Regions from separate parts of the Homo sapiens genome. Here all the other regions are reported to be linked to region 1. The links are microRNA targets in miRTarBase. Many come from high-throughput screens and were not tested one by one. Region 1 holds a microRNA gene; each other region holds the end of a gene's coding sequence. Distances are from middle to middle.
Evidence for each region. Region 1 holds the annotated microRNA hsa-miR-4778-3p (UCUUCUUCCUUUGCAGAGUUGA, at 1,423-1,444, shown strand). A microRNA usually pairs through its seed, bases 2 to 8, with sites in the 3' UTR of a target mRNA and lowers its output. Matches are read on the target gene's strand: a 7mer-m8 pairs with bases 2 to 8, a 7mer-A1 pairs with bases 2 to 7 and ends in A, and an 8mer does both.

Region 1 (4,360 bases):
GCTTTGGTAAAATTTTCTGATACAGTGTCAAACATATCAGTAACGGCTCACTAATGGCATTGCATTCAAACCTCAGAAACAGTTTTTGTCTTGTGTGTGACCTATATGCCACTGCACTGCTGAGCATCCAATTCTCCATGAATATCAATGATTTCCTCTGGTGGTGACCCTGATGAACTTCCCAGGCAAGTTTCCAAACTTTCATGGCTCATAGGTGGCTCCTGTGTCCTCACAGGTGGTGGCCTTGTGTCCCTGGAGTCTTCGAAGCAAACTGCTTCTTTGTTTCTTTGGATATAAAAGCTTATCAAATGGCTTTTTCAATATCATCCTCTTTTCAAAAGTGGATGAAGGGTTTATAGTCTTCAAAATATGATAACACTCAGAAGTGCATTTTTCTCAGTATTGTTTTGAAAGCATAAGCACTTATAAACAATGATTTTTAACCTTGGATGGGGGGACCAATAAGTTATTGTTAGGTGTCTATTAATCTACTTGTTGTGCAAGCATTCTCTAGAGTCTGAGTAAATAATATTTTAAAAGCTTTACTGAGATTATTGGCCATTTTTGTCAGTATGTTTTCTTAAGTCATACTAAAAGTTCAACTCATATCACTAAGGGGGTATGAAATTATTTTTTTCTTGGGGCGGGGAAGTATGAGATATAAAATTCTCAACTTCCAAGTGATATGATTTGGCTCTGTGTCCCCACCCAAATCTCATGTTGAATTGTAACCCCCAGTGTTGGGGGAGGGACCCGGTAAGAGGTGATTGGATTATGGGGGTAGATTTTTCCCATGCTGTTCTTGTGATAGTGAGTTATCATGAGATCTGGTTGTTTAAGAGTGTGTAGCACTTCCCTCTTTGCTCTCTCTCTCCTGCTGCCATGTAAAGATGTGCTTGCTTCCCATTTGCCCTGCCTCCATGATTGTAAGTTTCCTGAGGCCTCCCCTGCCATGTCTTCTATACAACCTGTGGAGCTGTGAGTCAATTAAATCCCTCTTTATAAACTACCCATACTCAGGTAGTTCTTTATAGCAGTGTGAGAACAGACTAATACACCAAGTAATAAAACCTCAACTTAAAGTAGCTGAAGTCAAAAGGAGAAGTTGTTGGCTCAGATTGTTCAGAGGTATGTTGAGCTCCATTTGCCTTTGTTCAGCTTCAGGCAAGCTTTTTCCATAAGGTGGTGAGAGCATCCTGGTGCTTGCCACATGAATACATGATCCTGAAGCTTTGTGAACTCAAGAGAGACTTTATCCCAACAATCAAACTCCAAAGCAGTGTTTGGATTGGTTATCCCTACTTCATGTATTTCTCTCTGGACTAATCACAGGCATTAAGACATATAAGGTAAACTGACTGGTCAGTGTAAATCACATGTCCAATTCTGTAAAGGAAGAAGAGGTAAGAAGAAGTGAAGCCCTCTTCTTCCTTTGCAGAGTTGAATATGTGGCTTATAGTCCTTCTAGAGTCAACATGGAGAGAGAGAGGAGACACTTTCCAAACAAAAAAAGGATGTGATGAATAGACAAGCAATTCTTGTCCACTGAAAAAAGGGTTCTTATATTTGCTTCATATTTATAAGTCTTAGGGATATTATTCTAGAATTACATTATTATTTTCTTGATGTTTGCACTACAGTTCTCCTCTAGGTATTAGAGGTCAGCTAAGCACAAATGAGATGAATGGGAATACTCTGGGAGGCACTGTTTCTGCAGCCAATCCCAAAGAGGTTTGTATGCCTGTGTGTGTTTGGGTGCGAGAAGAAGAAGAATGAAGTGTCAGAAGGAGAGCTGTCAAAATGAAATATCAAAATTCCCTTAAAATCCAAATCTCAATTCTGTTCTGTAAGTTTAAAACAAAACAAAATGAACTTGCACACATACACACACCACTAGGACCACCACTACAATCACCACTACCAAACAGATGCAAGCTATAAGGTTTTAATTCCAAAAAGACCCAGAATATTTCTATTCCTTATTTGTCTTTAATTATTGTGTTCTTTTTGTATGGGCACCCTAGATTGGGAGATTCAGCCCTAGGATTAGAGCTCGGAGTAGCATGGATCTCATTCCCAGGTCTCCATTTCTTGGCTAGCTTCTTTTCCCTGGACAATCCATTCCTTCACAGGAGTCAGTAATTCTGCAACTAATCTAATGCCCATTTACTTTCCTTATCTGACTCTGTCTGTCAGTCTTTTCACTTTCATCTCTTCTGGCATTACTCCTCATTTCCTTAATTTTCCCTACATTTTCCCATTATGTGAAATAAAAACACTTCAAATCCTTATTTCACTTTTCTCAGCTATAGGTATTACAGACAACTGGCATACCATGAAGATAAGCTGACTCTTACAAGAGTAATACAATGATGATGAAAATGAACATTGAGTCCTTATTATTTCCTAGACACTCTATCTATTATTATCTATTTAATCCTCACGCCAACCTAATGGGATGGAGTAGTAGATCCATGTTAGTTTTATTTGAGAGGTTTCAGCCTTTGAATGGCTGAGTTCAGCCTTTGAACCCATTTCTTACATTTGAGAAATTTCTAATAATATGAATTTTGCTTGAATTTCCCAGTATGGAAGTCAAAAAAATTCTTGTCCCAGGCTACCCTGCAGCTAAGGTATGAACACATCACCTATACTCAGCCAAACAGAGGTACCTGCCTCAGACTTTAAATTTGCATTGAGAGATGCAAAAATCAGGAAAGCAGAGAATTTATTTCTCCTTTAATGGTTGCAGAGGTGGCTTCAACATCAGCTTCCAGGGTTTACAGAGGCTGTGGTGGTGACATTAAATGTTTAAGTTCAGTAGCAATAACAGATAAGCCTCAGTATTCAGTGTCAGCAACAGTCAGGTGGAGTGATAGAGTCTCCACCTCACTCACATTGTGGCATCATTTTGGCTGTGGCTCAGGCTGTTACCTGCACCCCTTCTTTATGCCATTTCTGAGTCTGGTAGTTCAGCCTTCCCAATGTTTTCATAAACATAAAATACAGTGTTGTGGAGTTGAGCCACAAAGAAGCCTTTTCTACGTGCTTTCTCATACCCTTGCAATAAATTCCCTACTGTCTAATCAGCCATAGTTAGTTTATATCACTTGAAACAAAGAAATTTGATGGGAACAGAGATCATATTTTAAATTTCCTTCTATAGATTTGTAAACTCAGGCTTTTTTTTATTATTGTTATTTTTGGACAGAGTTTGGCTCTTGTCACCCAGGCTGGAGTGCAGTGGTGTGATCTCGGCTCACTGCAACCTCCGCCTCCTGGGTTCAAGCAATTCTCCTGCCTCAGCCTCCTGAGTAGCTGGGGTTACAGGCATGCACCACCATACCAGGCTAATTTTTTGTATTTTTAGTAGAGATGGGGTTTTGCCATGTTGGGCAGGCTGGTCTTGAACTCCTGACCTCAGGTGATCCACTCACCTTGGCCTCCCAAAGTGCTGGGATTACAGGCATGAGCCACCGTGCCCAGCCAATCCAGGCTTAAAGAAACAAATCTATTGCACAAGGTCAAACACAGAGTCTGGGGTCTGGCTGTTTGGAGAGCCAAGATTTGTCTCCCACCCTCATGCAAGCAGGGAAGAAAGTACTACCAATAAATGAGATTGGTCTGAAAGTAACTTAGAAAAATTAGGCATCCTTGATTAATGTCTCAGTTCTGGCTCTAACTAGCTTGATGTGGCTTGTCTCTGTGTCCCCACCCAAATCTCATATTGTAGTTCCATAATTTCCACGTGTTGTGGGAGGGACCCAGTGGAAGATGATTGAATCATGGGGGCAGGTCTTTCCCATGTTGTTCTCGTGATAGTGAATAGGTCTCACGAGATCTGATGATTTTAAAAACCAGAATTTCTCTGCATAAGCTCTCTCTTTGCCTGCTGCCATCCACGTAAGATGTGACTTGCACCTCCTTGCCTTCTGCCACGATTGTGAGGCCTCCCCAGCCGTGGGGGCTGTAAGTCCAATAAACCTCTTTCTTTTGTGAATTGGTTATGTCTTTATCAGCAATGTGAAAACAGACTAATACACTGGCCCTATGCTTTGCATAAGTCATAGTTTATTGGGATAATCTTTCTTTGTCTAGAAAGTAAAAAGTTTGGTCAGCATTGGTGCTTTCTAACTCTTAAGGATGGGGGCATATAGCCATACAAAAACATTTGAAAGGTACTGAACTTCTGTTTAGCAAAATTCACATTCAAATGTGTTATGTCCAACTTCACCCAAGCCCATCCTGGGATGTCAATGAACCCTAGGATGAGAACCTTGAATTAGATGACCTCTTGTTTTGGAGTTTTCCAAGTAAAACTTTGTGTGATTTCATTGTCTGGGTGAATTTGCTATAATTA
Region 2 (4,000 bases), not on the chromosome of region 1:
ATATGACTGATTGCCTAAGATTAAATGGTAGACAGTGTATGAAAGGTTTTAGTTGGGTTGGTTTTATTTGGTACTGTGTGTGTGTGAATGTGTGAGAGTTATGTCCTGGTTTTCAAGTATGAATGGCCCAATTTTAGACAGTTATCCTGGGAGATGAAGGAATTACTAGCTGTACCCAGTATCCTCGAATTGAGTCTAATTTATGGATTCTCTCCACAGAAAAATGTACGAGTATAAGCAAAGCATGCTGCATAAAATTTGAGGGAGTTCACAGACATCCCGCCTAGGTTAAGAATCCCCATGCTAGACATCTCTCAGATCTTTGGTAAGTCAGGGTCACATGACCTTCCCAGTATCAAGTCCAACAGGACAGGAGGCAAGTACCTGAGGATGTCATGGTGGCTTAGAACTTGCTGTGCCCTGCCAGGAATAGCACAGATAATCCTGCCTCCTCCTTGAGCCATCACAGTTAGCTGTGAATAAATCCCCACAGAGAAGAGGTAAAGCAGCCTGGATGCAGACCAACCTTCAGTACTAACGATCCTCCTTTCCATCTGCGAGGCAGAAGCACTTCTCACACCTCATTCTTTTCCCATCCATTCTTCATCCTTGCCTGTTTCATTCCCTCCCTCTGCCAAAGATTGAATACGCCTCTTTTTAAACCCTTTCTCAGGGCTAGGGTCTAGGAATACAAATGTGAATAGAACATGGCTCCTCTAATTTATTAAACAAACTTACTGAATATTTACTGAACCCAATGCTCTTTAGTTTTTACAATCTACACCCTAGTGAGGAAACATGCATGTACACACATGGGCACACACCACTGGCCCACAAGCCATTCATGTGTATACAATCATAACGCAACATAAAAGGAGGCTATAATTGAGAGATATGTAAGCAACTATCGAAGCGGAGACTGTCTGCCTGGGAAGGTGAAATTGATTCCTGTTTCCAAAATCAAATAGGAATTTTCCAAGCAGACAAGGGTGGAAGAGGGGACAACATGTGCAAAGCCATTCAGGTGCCAAAGAACATAGTAGTGGCTGAGCCTCAGAAGCATGTGCCAGATCAGCAGGAGTTACAGCATGAAACACAGGGAAAGGCCGAATCCTGGATGTCCTCAATTGCCACATAAACGCATGAGTACTGACATAGAGCTTCTGGAAGGCTCTAGGCAAAAGAATGAAATGACAGATTTTGACTTTAGAAGGCCAACTCTGATGACAGAATGAAAGATGGGTTAGATGAGGACCTAATGAAAAACAGGAAGATCATTTGGGCAGGAGGCTCCTGAGTGGTGCTGGTGAAGGCTAAAAGAGGGTCTAAATTCTAGAGGGGTGGTAGGGAAAGAGAGGAAGGGCAAATATGAGAGATTCAGAAGACAGCATGGGAAGAAACTGGCAAATAATTAAATGGGTGGGAGTGGGGGGTGAGGGAGGAGTCATTAGGATGACTGCCAGTTCCTTCGAGCAACTAGAAATGAAGGCGACCAAATACAAGGTTGCATGGGGGAAGATAACGAGGCCTGAGGGACATGGGGAGTGTGAGGGACTGTAAGATAAATAACTGTTGATGCCCACTCTGGTGACAGGACTGCAGGTCAAATGAACACACACTATTTGTCCATTCCTGGTTCTAAACTCCTCCCTTACCAAATTTGAAATTGAAATCCGTATGTGCATGTTGCCAATCTTCTGTGGAAAAAATAATTCTTTATAAAACTCTCTACAGTGAGACAGATCCTCTTAAATATGAAAAGGCCCACTTGTGTTGTGGGTAACGATGAGAAAATCATCTTCGTGCGAAATTTGCCTTTCTCTTCCCTTACATCATAGCTGACTCCGCCAAGACCACTATGATCAAGTTTTTATTCCTCCTCCAACCCTCCACTGCAACTTTTGGCTGTACAAGACGAATACTTCCATATGGTGCAATGTTTATGTTAAGATGGGGGAAAATGTGAGATGCTTTCAGTAAATTTTATTCAAGAAGTAATAAATTTATACATTCTAAGCAGCTGGAACAAAATATTGGTCTGTAATTGATTCTGAATGAAGTGTTTTTCAAAAGGAACAGAAAACTTGGGGCTATTTGTTAATTACTGATGTTTAGAGATCTTGGGTGCTGTCATGCAGCCCTCTCTGGCTGTGACCTCAGACATATGATTTGACATGTTGAATCTCTTTTGCCTCATCTGGAAAATGGGTTTAGCAATTTTACCTACTCATAGGGTTTTTGTGAGGATTAAATCAGCTAACACAAGTAAAGGGCTTGGGATAGTACTCATTATGTAGCAGACACTCAGCAAATGTTAGTTCTTTTCTTTTTACCTATTACCTATAGTCTGAGTCACAAGAGAAGGGGAATAGGATGAGGATGGGGGTAGGAAGGAAGGACTGAGAAAGTGTATGAGAATGAAGTTTTAAGGATTTATCTATAAAAGAATGCCCACTGCCACCTCAGAATCTGTAGAGACAAGGGAGCTGTGTGAGTACAAGTGATTCTTTAAAAATATTTTTTGGGAAGCAGGTGTGGGTACGTGAAGCCTGTAAAACCAGGAGTTTTCTGATATACTTTTGGGATCATCATGCATTTTTATAATTATTGAAATCACTAGAACAAATGAGAGCAGGAGGGGAGAAGGCAAGTCCTAAAAAACCTGTCTAGAGGGGACTATTTAACATGCAAAAACTACCCCATGTCTGTGTGAAACCAATGCACAGAATTTATTCTATTGATGCATTATTATTTTGGACAAACTGCCAACTTTTGTTTTAGTTTTTTAGTCACTAAAGCACAATGATTTTTTAGAATAATTTTTAATGTCTTCTGTTTAGTCTTTACATTTACAAAGCAATTCTATACCTTTCTAATTTAATACTGATAAAAACCAAGCAAAGTAAATATTAGCCCTATTTTAAAATAGCAAATATTTGGTATACATTTACTGTGTTCCAGGTACTGTACTAAATGCTCTGTGAGGCATGTCCCATTTAATTCTTCTGACGAACCTGCAAAGTACGTACTATTTCATCATCTGAGGCTAGAAAAGAAAAGTTAAATAACTCTCTTAAGATGACCCAGAAGTAAAGAGCAAAGCCAGGACTTGAATCCACATGAGTCTGACTTCAAAGCCCACTCCTAACTCTTAACCACTGTATTCTGCTATTGAAGGATAATGAGATAATGCTCTTTCCCAGTATGGCAATGTATTTGGTTTGAACTCAGCCTAATTAATTACAGTCATGTAAACAACTGTTGTGAAATTATACAGAAACATTAAACTTTTTGATCTCTATTTCTATATTATGTTCCTAGAATTGCTAGAGACAGATGCACATCTTAATGTACATTTTCCTCTCTAAGGTTATGAGAATCTGGACAAGACCAATAATTGTTGAATAAAGTTTCCAAATACCTAAAGTACTTGGTAATAGACTAAGAATCTGTTTCTTGTTTATCTGTAATCAGTTTAATAGTTGCAGGTAAGAAAATTTAAGCACAATTTTAGTGAAGCCTAGCCACCAAACTTTTGACCAGTTCAATAATGCAAAGGACAAAACCTGTTCATAAAAATGAATTTTTAATTTCATGAGCATAAAAAAAAAACCCAAACCTGTCCCATACCCCTCCCACTCATGCAAACAGCTCTCAAATGAGATTCTTCAAATTTTACGTTTTTTCCATTCTGGCTCATTCTTTGCTTCCTCATCATCAGATTCAACTTGGGCAAACATGGTTTTGGGCTGAGTCCTAAAAGAAAAGTTAAAGAAGAGAAGGAAAAATTTAGTCAGAAAGTATTTGTTACATTAGATTTTGCTTCCTTCATCAAGTGGGAGCAAATGTGGGGAATAAATTACAACTCAATTATTAAATATAAATCATTAAACTTCTGGCAAAGAAAAAGATAATGGAAATTTAATTATGTTCAGGAAAAGAGCAAAAGATTCTTTTAAAGATTTACCCTCTGTGGCAGACTGTACATACACACTGTTCT
Region 3 (4,000 bases), 46 Mb from region 1:
TTGTAGTGGAGCTGGTTGCTGCTGCTGGCGGTGACCTGGCCAACCCAATCTGCCCCTGCCCTCCCACAGGACTTCACCTTTGAAACCTCGGGGGAGAATACGGCTGTAGTGGCCGTGGAGCCTGACCGCCGGAACCAGTCCCCAGTGGATCAGGGGGCCACGGGGGCCTCACAGGGCCTCCTGGACAGGAAAGAGGTGCTGGGAGGTGAGTTTTCTTTCAGGGGGGTAGTTTGGGGTGAATTGCTGCTGTGGGGTCAGGGTGGGGCTGACCACAGCCAAGGCCACTGCTTTGGGGAGGGTCTGCAGCAGAGCCCAAGGAGCCGCTGAGCTGAGCTGGCCCCGTCTACCTGCCCTAGGGGTCATTGCCGGAGGCCTCGTGGGGCTCATCTTTGCTGTGTGCCTGGTGGGTTTCATGCTGTACCGCATGAAGAAGAAGGACGAAGGCAGCTACTCCTTGGAGGAGCCGAAACAAGCCAACGGCGGGGCCTACCAGAAGCCCACCAAACAGGAGGAATTCTATGCCTGACGCGGGAGCCATGCGCCCCCTCCGCCCTGCCACTCACTAGGCCCCCACTTGCCTCTTCCTTGAAGAACTGCAGGCCCTGGCCTCCCCTGCCACCAGGCCACCTCCCCAGCATTCCAGCCCCTCTGGTCGCTCCTGCCCACGGAGTCGTGGGGTGTGCTGGGAGCTCCACTCTGCTTCTCTGACTTCTGCCTGGAGACTTAGGGCACCAGGGGTTTCTCGCATAGGACCTTTCCACCACAGCCAGCACCTGGCATCGCACCATTCTGACTCGGTTTCTCCAAACTGAAGCAGCCTCTCCCCAGGTCCAGCTCTGGAGGGGAGGGGGATCCGACTGCTTTGGACCTAAATGGCCTCATGTGGCTGGAAGATCCTGCGGGTGGGGCTTGGGGCTCACACACCTGTAGCACTTACTGGTAGGACCAAGCATCTTGGGGGGGTGGCCGCTGAGTGGCAGGGGACAGGAGTCCACTTTGTTTCGTGGGGAGGTCTAATCTAGATATCGACTTGTTTTTGCACATGTTTCCTCTAGTTCTTTGTTCATAGCCCAGTAGACCTTGTTACTTCTGAGGTAAGTTAAGTAAGTTGATTCGGTATCCCCCCATCTTGCTTCCCTAATCTATGGTCGGGAGACAGCATCAGGGTTAAGAAGACTTTTTTTTTTTTTTTTTAAACTAGGAGAACCAAATCTGGAAGCCAAAATGTAGGCTTAGTTTGTGTGTTGTCTCTTGAGTTTGTCGCTCATGTGTGCAACAGGGTATGGACTATCTGTCTGGTGGCCCCGTTTCTGGTGGTCTGTTGGCAGGCTGGCCAGTCCAGGCTGCCGTGGGGCCGCCGCCTCTTTCAAGCAGTCGTGCCTGTGTCCATGCGCTCAGGGCCATGCTGAGGCCTGGGCCGCTGCCACGTTGGAGAAGCCCGTGTGAGAAGTGAATGCTGGGACTCAGCCTTCAGACAGAGAGGACTGTAGGGAGGGCGGCAGGGGCCTGGAGATCCTCCTGCAGACCACGCCCGTCCTGCCTGTGGCGCCGTCTCCAGGGGCTGCTTCCTCCTGGAAATTGACGAGGGGTGTCTTGGGCAGAGCTGGCTCTGAGCGCCTCCATCCAAGGCCAGGTTCTCCGTTAGCTCCTGTGGCCCCACCCTGGGCCCTGGGCTGGAATCAGGAATATTTTCCAAAGAGTGATAGTCTTTTGCTTTTGGCAAAACTCTACTTAATCCAATGGGTTTTTCCCTGTACAGTAGATTTTCCAAATGTAATAAACTTTAATATAAAGTAGTCCTGTGAATGCCACTGCCTTCGCTTCTTGCCTCTGTGCTGTGTGTGACGTGACCGGACTTTTCTGCAAACACCAACATGTTGGGAAACTTGGCTCGAATCTCTGTGCCTTCGTCTTTCCCATGGGGAGGGATTCTGGTTCCAGGGTCCCTCTGTGTATTTGCTTTTTTGTTTTGGCTGAAATTCTCCTGGAGGTCGGTAGGTTCAGCCAAGGTTTTATAAGGCTGATGTCAATTTCTGTGTTGCCAAGCTCCAAGCCCCATCTTCTAAATGGCAAAGGAAGGTGGATGGCCCCAGCACAGCTTGACCTGAGGCTGTGGTCACAGCGGAGGTGTGGAGCCGAGGCCTACCCCGCAGACACCTTGGACATCCTCCTCCCACCCGGCTGCAGAGGCCAGAGGCCCCCAGCCCAGGGCTCCTGCACTTACTTGCTTATTTGACAACGTTTCAGCGACTCCGTTGGCCACTCCGAGAGGTGGGCCAGTCTGTGGATCAGAGATGCACCACCAAGCCAAGGGAACCTGTGTCCGGTATTCGATACTGCGACTTTCTGCCTGGAGTGTATGACTGCACATGACTCGGGGGTGGGGAAAGGGGTCGGCTGACCATGCTCATCTGCTGGTCCGTGGGACGGTGCCCAAGCCAGAGGCTGGGTTCATTTGTGTAACGACAATAAACGGTACTTGTCATTTCGGGCAACAGCTGCTGTGGTGGTGGTTGAGTCTCTTCTTGGCCTGGCGATGTCCAGCCGTGTCACCTTCTAGGGGTGGGAGCCTGGTTCTGGGCAATGCTCTGGCTTGGTACAGAACAGCAGAATTCATGCTGGTCCCTCCTGTCGTGGAAGACAGAGTCCATCTCTGCCCTCCTCCCCCAAACCCCTGTGCAGGCATTCAGCATCTCGCCTTCCTCCTCCCGGGGCTCTTGGCCCTCCTGCCCAGCACTCCTTGTTCCTTAAGGCTCCACTGGATCATTCCCTTCCTCAAGGACATGATGGGCTCCCTACTGATTCTCAAAGCTTGCTATTTATTCTTTGCTCACTGTGATTTCTGTACACTCACTAGCAACAGTCTTTAAGTGCCAGAGGTCTAAAAAAACCATGTGCCTAGTAGGGAAAAATGACAGTGAAAGACCTGGAGGTTGAGGCAGCACACTGCACCGCAGGGGTCCTTAGTGTCCTAGAGCATCTATTATAGCTGGCTTTCCAGTCTTGTCCAGGCTGCTGGCCCACTCTGTCCCTGGTGCAGGTCACCCCCTGACCCTAGACCCCAGACCCCAGACCCCAGGAATGGCCTGGGCCCTGCAGAGCAGGAGGGACCGTTTCTTCCCCGCCCCTGCACCTGCTGATGGAGCAGGGACTGCTGGCTCCAGGTGGCTTTGCAGGATGGAGAATTCTATTCTTCCTGACACATTGTGTTCCAAAGGGTTTGGAGGCCGAGATAAAGTTTTCCAGGTCATTTATTCATTCAACAAACACTGAAAATACCAGTGCCTATCTCCTGCCAGTTCTTGGACTGGACAGGGAGGGCCCACTTGTAGAATTGGCCATCAGATAGTAATACTTTTATTAATAACATATTAATAACCCTCCACATGGGACCTGCAAGGTTCCAAGACCCCAGCTCCCTGGGCTGCCTGTCCCCATATATCCAAATCAAACTGCACCCCGTCCCACCTCTTGGCCCTGCTTGTTCTTAATGCCCTCTCGCAACTCTGTGCTTCCATTCTGAGTCCCCCACCCCAGGGCACCCCCAGGGCAGGGCTGTGCCATCAAACAGACTGCCGCATGTTTGAGACTAACAGTAAAAAAGGTGGAGGTGTTTAAATGTCATCCTTGGGCACCCCTTCCTCAAGCAGTGACTGCCCACCTCCCCTTGGGCCTCAGCCTGCTGTCCTGTGTCGCAAAGCCTAATCCCCATCTCTCCACTTTCCCACTTGCCCTGCCTGGGAGGGGAGCAGTGGGCACTATTTCCTTTTTCCGTTCCCTTTACATCATGCCCACAGTCTGGCCTGGGTGTGGGGGAGAGTGTGTGTGTACATTGCATGGGCGACTCACTGGATCTTCTACTAAGACCTCTCCCAAGTTATTTTCTAAACGCACGAGCCATCTTCTCTCAGATCGTGCTGCACTCTCAATGTGCAGCCAGCTTCTGTTTTAAATAGCATTTTTTTGCCTCGCTTGCCTCAGGGGTTTTGCTTGGGATATG

Region 2: miRTarBase lists WDR70 as a target of hsa-miR-4778-3p. The part of its 3' UTR that is shown has no 7-base or 8-base seed match.
Region 3: the mRNA of SDC1 is a reported target of hsa-miR-4778-3p. Seed matches in the 3' UTR shown: 7mer-A1 at 1,170-1,176.

What each region holds. Positions count from the first base shown.
Region 1 is chr2:66,355,341-66,359,700 of GRCh38, reverse strand. It overlaps MIR4778 (microRNA 4778), which reads left to right and starts at 1,373; the gene lies at 1,373-1,452.
Region 2 is chr5:37,752,242-37,756,241 of GRCh38, reverse strand. It overlaps WDR70 (WD repeat domain 70), which reads right to left. Exons shown (of 18, transcript NM_018034.4): 18 at 2,807-3,756. The coding sequence ends at 3,669. Among named protein-coding and RNA genes, the nearest start is that of GDNF-AS1, 86 kb to the left of the region's middle.
Region 3 is chr2:20,199,292-20,203,291 of GRCh38, reverse strand. It overlaps SDC1 (syndecan 1), which reads left to right. Exons shown (of 5, transcript NM_002997.5): 4 at 70-205; 5 at 357-2,495. The coding sequence ends at 526. Among named protein-coding and RNA genes, the nearest start is that of SDC1, 24 kb to the left of the region's middle. RefSeq lists an enhancer at 1,820-2,320.